Linked DNA regions of Homo sapiens. The protein of the gene in region 1 interacts with the protein of each later gene in a pairwise test. Each region holds a gene or a part of one and is shown on either strand. Other genes may lie near its edges.

Region 1 (3,751 bases):
CGATAACAATATACTGTAATAGTTATGTGAATGTGGTCTCTCTCAAAATATCTTACTTTACTGAACTCACCTATTTTCGGACTGCAGTTGACCATGGGTGATAAAACCACAGAAACCAAAACTTCAGATAAGGGGTAGCTACTATATACACAATATGTCTTTTTTTGATATATGTTGGATGGATGGATGGATGGATGGATGGATGGATGGATGGATGGATGGATGGATAGATGGATGGACAGACAGATAGGTAGATAGATGATTGATAGACAGGCAGGTAGGTAGGTAGATAGTGTTCATTTAGATTTGCCACTTTCTTCGTTCTTCCTTCTTAACTCCTCAGACTTTCCACCTAGGATCATCTCCCTTCTCTCTGAAGTTCATCCTTTTGAATTTCCTTTAATATGGGTCTTTTGGTGGACAACTCTCAGATTTGATTGCCTGCAAATGTCATTATTTTGTCTTCATTCGTAAAGGATATTTTTGCTGAGTATAGCATTTCAGCTTTGGTATTTATCATTTTTCAGCACATTGAAGTCATTCCACTGACTTCTGCCTTCCATTGTTGTGAAGTCAGTGGCAAGTCTAAAAAATCTCTTCTCTGGTGTGTATTTAAAATTTTCTTATTATTTTCCATCTTTTTGTCTCACTGTGCTGTTTTCTTGATTATTATCTTTTGATTTATCTTCTTTTCTCCTTAACTCTGATTAATCTGCTATTACATTTATCCATTGATTTTTTTTTTTTAATTTCTACAAATTCTTGTCTTTTTACAGGAGAATAACTTAATCCACCATTACCTTCAAATCCTCTCTTATTTCTATAGTTCCCTGTTACCTGGAGTTATCTTCCAGTTAATTTTTATTTTTTAAACATGATAAGCATTTGTTTAAATTATCTTTGTTTTTTAAATAAATTTTAGACTTTATTCTTCATCACCCAACTTGAAAAAAATCATCTTTCTGGTTACTATAATATTTGAAATCTTTGCAAGACTACTTCCTATGATCTGCTTCTGCTGGTCTTTTCTTAGAGTCTAATTTTTGGTATGTCTGATATCTGTGGCTGCATGCTGCTCATTTATTAAACATTATTTGTAGCAGCCGGGCGCAGTGGCTCACACCTATAATCCCAGCACTTTTGGAGGCTGAGGCGGGTGGATCATTTGAGGTCAGGAGTTTGAAATCAACTGGCCAACATGGTGAAACCCCATCTCTACTAAAAGTACAAAAAGTAGCTGGGTATGTGGTGGCATGTGCCTGTAATCCCAGATATTCAGGAGGGCGATGCAGGAGAATCGCTTGAACCCAGGAGGCAGAAGTTGCAGTGATCTGTGATTGCACCACTGCCCTCCAGCCTGGGCGACAGAGCAAGACTGTCTTTAAAAAACAAAAAAAATCAAAAAAAAATTATTTGTAGCAATAACTTTCTGCCTTAGATGTCCTGGGATGTTAGAATCTAAGGCTTAGATTAAGGTCCTTCTACAGAAGTTTTGCATTTGTTTCTGCCAGTTGACTGAAAACACTACTAATTTGGTATTAACTGTAAGTTAAGTTCAAGGCTCATGATTTCCCAGATAGCAAGGAGATTTAAATCTGAGTACGAATTCTGGTTGGCCTTCATCCTGACAGTGTAGAACTTTGGAGAGGATCTCCTGCCAGAAGCCACGTTTTCTGTGGACCTGGAGCTTAAACTTCTGTCTTTTTCATCCCCAGGACAAAAGGTTTAAATTTTCCTAGATTAGAAATGCCCTCAGTGTAAAATGGTTTTCATGCTTGATAACCTCTGTAGGTCCTAATTTTCCCTTCAGTTTTGCCTTGTTATCTTGTTGGCTTCTCCTCTTCTAAGAAGATTATTATTGTTGTTATTTTTGAAACAAGATCTCACTTCGTTGCCCAGGCTGGAGTACAATGGCATGATCACAGCCCACTTCAGCTTCACACTCCTGGGCTCAAGCGATCCTCCCATTTCAGCCTCCTGAGTAGTTGAGACTATAGACAAATACCACAATGCCCGGCTAATTTCATTATTTTTTGTAGAGATGAAGTCTTGCTGTGTTGCCTCCTATGAACCTCCTGGGCTCAAGCAGTCCTTGTAGCTTGGCTTCCAAAAGTGCTGAGCCACCACCACCCGGCTAAGATTATTTTTTAAATGTTTTATCCAGCAAATTGTTTTTTGCAGAAGAATAACCTAATACGCCATTACATGAAATCGGAAGTTCAGTTGCTCTTAGATCCTGTTTTGAATAGAAAGTGCACACGGATGCCTCAGATCTGGGTATTCCTGGGGTCTAGAATGAACAGATGTGCGCTGCGGTGCAAAAGTTGTATGAGAATCCCAGAGGCTGAGAGGGAACAGAAGAGATGAATTGAGATGGCCCAGAGTTGCCTGGTGACTGAGCGGGTGACGCCAGGCTTCCTTTTTCATTGTAGGGTGGTGGAAATCCCCTCAAAGACAGTAATGAGTAAAGCAAAATGGTCAAAGTGATGGTTTGGCTCCATCACCAAGGATCCAATGGGATGTGATAAAAGCCCTGAATCCAAAGAGAACATTGTTGTCATCAGAGAGTTTCTTCAGATGCTGTTTCTATATATGCTGTGGCGTTTATGGGTGTTGAAGACTCACATTTCATATTTGTGTTTCCTTTGATCTTTGCAGAAGGATTTTTGTTTGTATTCGGGGGCCAAGATGAAAATAAGCAGACTCTTAGCTCAGGAGAAAAGTATGATCCAGATGCAAATACATGGACAGCATTGCCACCTATGAACGAGGTAAAACACTAGTTGGTTGGTTTGTTTGATGTGTTTCTCTTTCCCCTTAGCGCTTCTGTTTGTTTTGTGTCTGAGTTCAGGGAAGAAACGGCAGCCTTGTCAAGCCACCTGCCTCATTCGCTCCAACCTCTCCTTCTAGTGCCCGGCTCTCCTCCCCTTCCTGGCCCTCACTCCTTCTGGCCTCCATGAGTTTCTGAAATCTTCCAGGAATGCCCTCACCCCAGCCTTCACATTTATCCTGCCCTGTGCAGATGCCAGCGTGGCCTGCCCCCTCCTCGCAGCACCTTCTCAGCGGGCCTCCCTCCTGCCTCTTAGCTTTCCTGTCCCCGTCTTCGTACGACGTCTCACCATCTCACGGACCAGGCATTTAAAGTTTTTCACATAAGCTCTTTGATGGCAGAGAATTACATGTGTTCTGGTCAGTATTTCATTTTCAGCACTAGAATCGTGCTTGGCACGTAGGGTTTACTACATAAATATTCATTGACAAACGGACATGAAACACCTAGGGCTTCTATGATCCCAAATAGCCTTGGCCTGACCCTGTCCTCCACAGCCCTTTCTGCCATAGTTTATACTAGCCTTTCCCACGTCAACTTGAAAACACTGCCCTTTGTTATGCAAAAATAATTGTATTGAACCAGAGGTAACAGTTCATTTTCTTGTTGTGAGCTATTATGGGTTAAAAAGTGAGGATTTTCTGATGAACTCACCATGTATTTCTTAAGTTTGTTTTGAGAAGTGGCTTTGGCCTCTCTGGCTGTTGTGCTGGAAGAGTGGGCTGTTAGGGAAGCCAGAAATCTTTAAGAAGCATTACCGGAGAAATGGTTTTGAACGTGGTACTTCCATGCTGGAACACTGGGAAAAAAGATTTCTCTAATTTTTAAAAATAGTTTCAACTTTTATTTTAGACTCGGGGATACATGTGCAGGTTTGTTATGTGTGTATATTGCATAATGCTGAGGTTTGCAGTAAGATTA
Region 2 (3,751 bases), on another chromosome or scaffold:
ACCCCCACCTCAAATCTGCTCTCCACTGGGCCTGTTGGCAGCCAGCTCAGCTGGGGAAGGGACAGCATGACTCGCTTTGTCGATGAAAAGCACGAAGTTGTCAGCACAGAACCTGGCCAGTCCTTGAGAAACTCCCTCCTTGGTGGTCAGAGGTCAAGCAGCCCATGTGGCCCACGGTCCTGAAGAACTGGGCTATGTCCCTGAGGCTCCTCTCTACCGTCTGACTGTGGGGTCTGGGGAACAGGCATTTAAACCAGGCTGCTGCCCTGGGGAGTGCCCACTGGACGCCAGGGTGCCCCATAGGGACAGGGTCACAAAGCCCTGGGGCTTCCCCTGCCAGTCCTGGTGAGGACAGTGTGGTCACTATCTCAGAGAGACGAAAAATGAATATTCTGTCATTTCAGACTAAACTACTCACCCAGCTCACACTAATATGGATTTGTTAATTTTACCTTTTTTTTTCTTTCCAACTTTAGGTTCAAGGGTTGTTACATGGGTAAATTGGATCATAGGGGTTTGGTGTACAGATAATTTTGTCACCCAGGTAATCAGCATGATACCTGATATGTAGTTTTTCAGTCCTCACCTTCCTCCCACTCGGTTTTATTTTTTAGTACTGAAAGTTTAACAGATTGGTCTTACCTCAGAGGGAGGGAAGAAACCCCCCCATCGCTGGGCTCCTTGGTGTGACAGGGGTCTGGTAGGGGTTTTCAATCCCACCACCCATTCCTCCACACCAAATGCCTGAAGTCCCCACTTTGCACAGGGAGACAGCATCGTGCCAGGGAAGAGAGGTCAGGCCCGGCTACCCCTCACAACTTCCTGCTTCCCCCTCAGAGGGTGATGGGGAGACCAGAGCCCATGGCAGGATGAACTGTCACTGAACCCAGCTGGCACAGGTCTGCCAGAACACTCTGGGGGTATGCGCTGGGCTTTCTGGGTAAACCCCTGGCAAGCTGGCGTTTGCTGTCTTCTCAGTGCTGATGGAGATAGGCACACATGGGGTGTGGGAATGTGGCCACCCTCAGGCAGGTTCACGAGGGTACTGTCAGGCGCTCAGGTGTATGCCGCCTCCTGTCAGGCAGGGCTGAGGCTATTCTCCCTGGAGAAGGACAGCTTAGGAAACACTTGCAGGAAAGCTGCCTGGACCTGGGAGGTGACCCTGGCCAGCCTCCCTGCTGCCTCTCTCAGTCCTAGGCCTTCTTCCCCAGAGCTGGTCAGGGCCTGAGGGACTTTGTAGTCTAACCCCTCATTGTGCTACAATCACAGGAGTAAGTAACACTCCCAAGGCCATGTGGCTGGTGACTCGGGGGGCCCAGGTCCAGGATCCTGCCCCATCTGCAGGCCAGTGGTTCCTTGTCTCCTATTTGCTTCTTGGAGCAGCCTCCTCATAAGCCAACAGCTCCTTCACCTGAGCCCAGTCACTTTGCGCTCCTCCCCAGAACCAAAGAGCAAGACCATCTGCCCCAGGTACAGTCCTGGCCATGCCACACTCTCTGTGGCATCATGACCAAGGTGAGTGGCAGATACTGAAATCATCCAGGGCCACTGCAGGCCCCATTCCCAGTGGACTGTTCATCAAGGGACCCTGTCTCAGGCCATCTCAGCCAACCTTGTTGCCCAGCACAGGTCTGGCACATTGGAGATGATCTGTGTTGGATGGGGAAGGCAGAGGGAGGATCCTCCAGCATTGATCACCCATCAAAACCCTCAACAACCCAGACATTGCCGCTGCACTGACCCCATGCTATGAGGAGGTCACTCAGGCTGTTAGGAGCCTGCTGACTCAGGCATTGGGCTGGGGCCCTGCCTGCCTTGTCTGCCTGCCAGCGGAGCACTGCCCCAAGCCCTTCTTACTGCAGAGACAGGCTCTTGCCTCCCAGTGTGCACTTTGTGCAAGACACAGGCAGGTAAGGGTCTACCAGAGGACAGGAAGTGTTGTTGGGGCACTGTGGGGTTTGGAGGAGGCCCCTCTAGCAGGGAAAGCGAGCCCTAACCTCTGCTGGACTAGGGAGTTTAGGAAGCTGCTCTGGTTCAGGGAACTGGGGATCCAGATAACTGGGGATCAAGGCCATCTTGTGACCCCAGTGGTGGTCCCTAGTGGGACTGCTGAGCTCCAGCCTGAGAGTTCATGAACTCAACAGTGATTGCTTGTGGGTACTAATGACCCAGTGTGTGGAGACCTCATTTACCAGGTGTGCCTAGCCTGCAGGCAAATCCCAAGGCAGTGACCCTTAGGGAAGAGACAGCGTTTGGGGTCATCAAAGGCTGGGAAACCCAGGTACCTGTCAGGGAATGGGCTACAGACTGGAGCTAAGCCTTAAGGTGGGGAAGATTCCAGCACCCCTGAGTGACCACCTCTTTTGGTAATGCAAAGAAGGGATTTTGTGACTCCAGGGTGACATTTCTAAGCTTGGCATCATGCAGGGTGGGCTTGGGCTCAATATGGGTGACTGTTAGTCTAGGGCTGTCTCAATGAGGCTGTCCAGGCAGAAAGGCTTACACACCTGGCAGGCAGAGGGTCTAGAGAGGAAGGGGCAACAGGCCTAAGGAGGGGACAGCCAGGCAAGGAGGTAGAATAGGCCTTGTCTGGACAGTGGTCACCTGTTAGGTCCACAGCTTGTCCTCCCTGGCCTGACCAGCCAGGTGAGGAGAGATCCAAACCATCCACCTGAAAGCATTCAGGGTGCCTGATGACAAGACCCCAGCCACTGTGGGCTCTCATGTCCTGGTAGGAAGGTATACCTAAAGCAGGTGGACCTGGTAGTGGTGGACGCTGTCTGCCTCCCCGGGGCTTGTCTGTTTATGCCAGACCGTTTTCCCATTTGCTTCCACCTCCAGCTCAGAGAGGAATCACCTTCACACCTCTGCTAAAACTAACCCAGCTCTGCACCCACCATTCCCCACTGTGCAACACCTGCTACTGGAGAACCCTGCCCCCTCAAATACACGTCATCCTCAGGGCCCTGCGATGTGCTGTGGTCTCCCTGCCACCATTCAAGGGGCCACAGCCAGGTCCAGCCTGTCTTCCCTGGCACCAGGCTCTATGCAGTGGGGGAAACTCGGGCACCCCTAAACTATTCTCCAGTGTTCTCACCAGAGGTGGTCAGCCATGTGATGGCAAGAGTCACTTCTTAAGCTTTTGCTATCCCCAGAAACTTAAAGCAACACCAACCACACCCAAAAGTCAAGTGATATCCAGACAGCAACAGTAGAGCATTAACTGAGTGCAGGGCCGTGGTGACTCCTCGACACTCCAGGCTCTCCTGCTGGTAACCTCCCATTGGCAGAGCCAGGCACTCAGCAAAGCCCTGGACAGTCAGCAGCCTCCTGAACAGGCTCTGCTGTCCCCACTCACGACTTCAGAGCAGCTAGGACTCCTGTGACCACCCCTGTCCCCTGTTCCCCCCCACCCCGCCCCGCCCCGCCAACTGCCTCATCTCTGTCCCAAGATAACTGCTCTCCAGAATTTTCCATGATATGGTCATTTTAAAAGTTTTTTTTTTTTTTGAGACAGAGTTTTTCCTGTGTTGCCCAGACTGGACTCAAACCTCTGGGCTCAAGTGATCCTCCTGCTTCAGCCTCCCAAGTAGCTGGGACTGTAAGTGTGCACCACTGTGCCTGGCTTGATGGTGTCATTTTTCACTGTACGTGTATTTGTAAACCGTATAAATCAGTATCTTTGTGAGTTGCTTTTCTTTCTCCCTTACCTTCATGAGCTGTCTGTGTCCATACACAGTCTCCTCTGCTC

What was found.
Region 2: the proteins of GAN (region 1) and NUDCD3 interact in binary tests that used the Homo sapiens proteins (3 or more experiments, as listed by UniProt).

The regions. Positions count from the first base shown.
Region 1 is NC_000016.10:81,359,841-81,363,591, forward strand, and holds part of GAN (gigaxonin), read left to right. Parts: intron 1-2,658; coding exon 2,659-2,771; intron 2,772-3,751. UniProt on the Homo sapiens protein: Probable cytoskeletal component that directly or indirectly plays an important role in neurofilament architecture.
Region 2 is NC_000007.14:44,379,047-44,382,797, reverse strand, and holds the end of NUDCD3 (nudC domain-containing protein 3), read left to right. Parts: 3' UTR 1-3,679; downstream 3,680-3,751.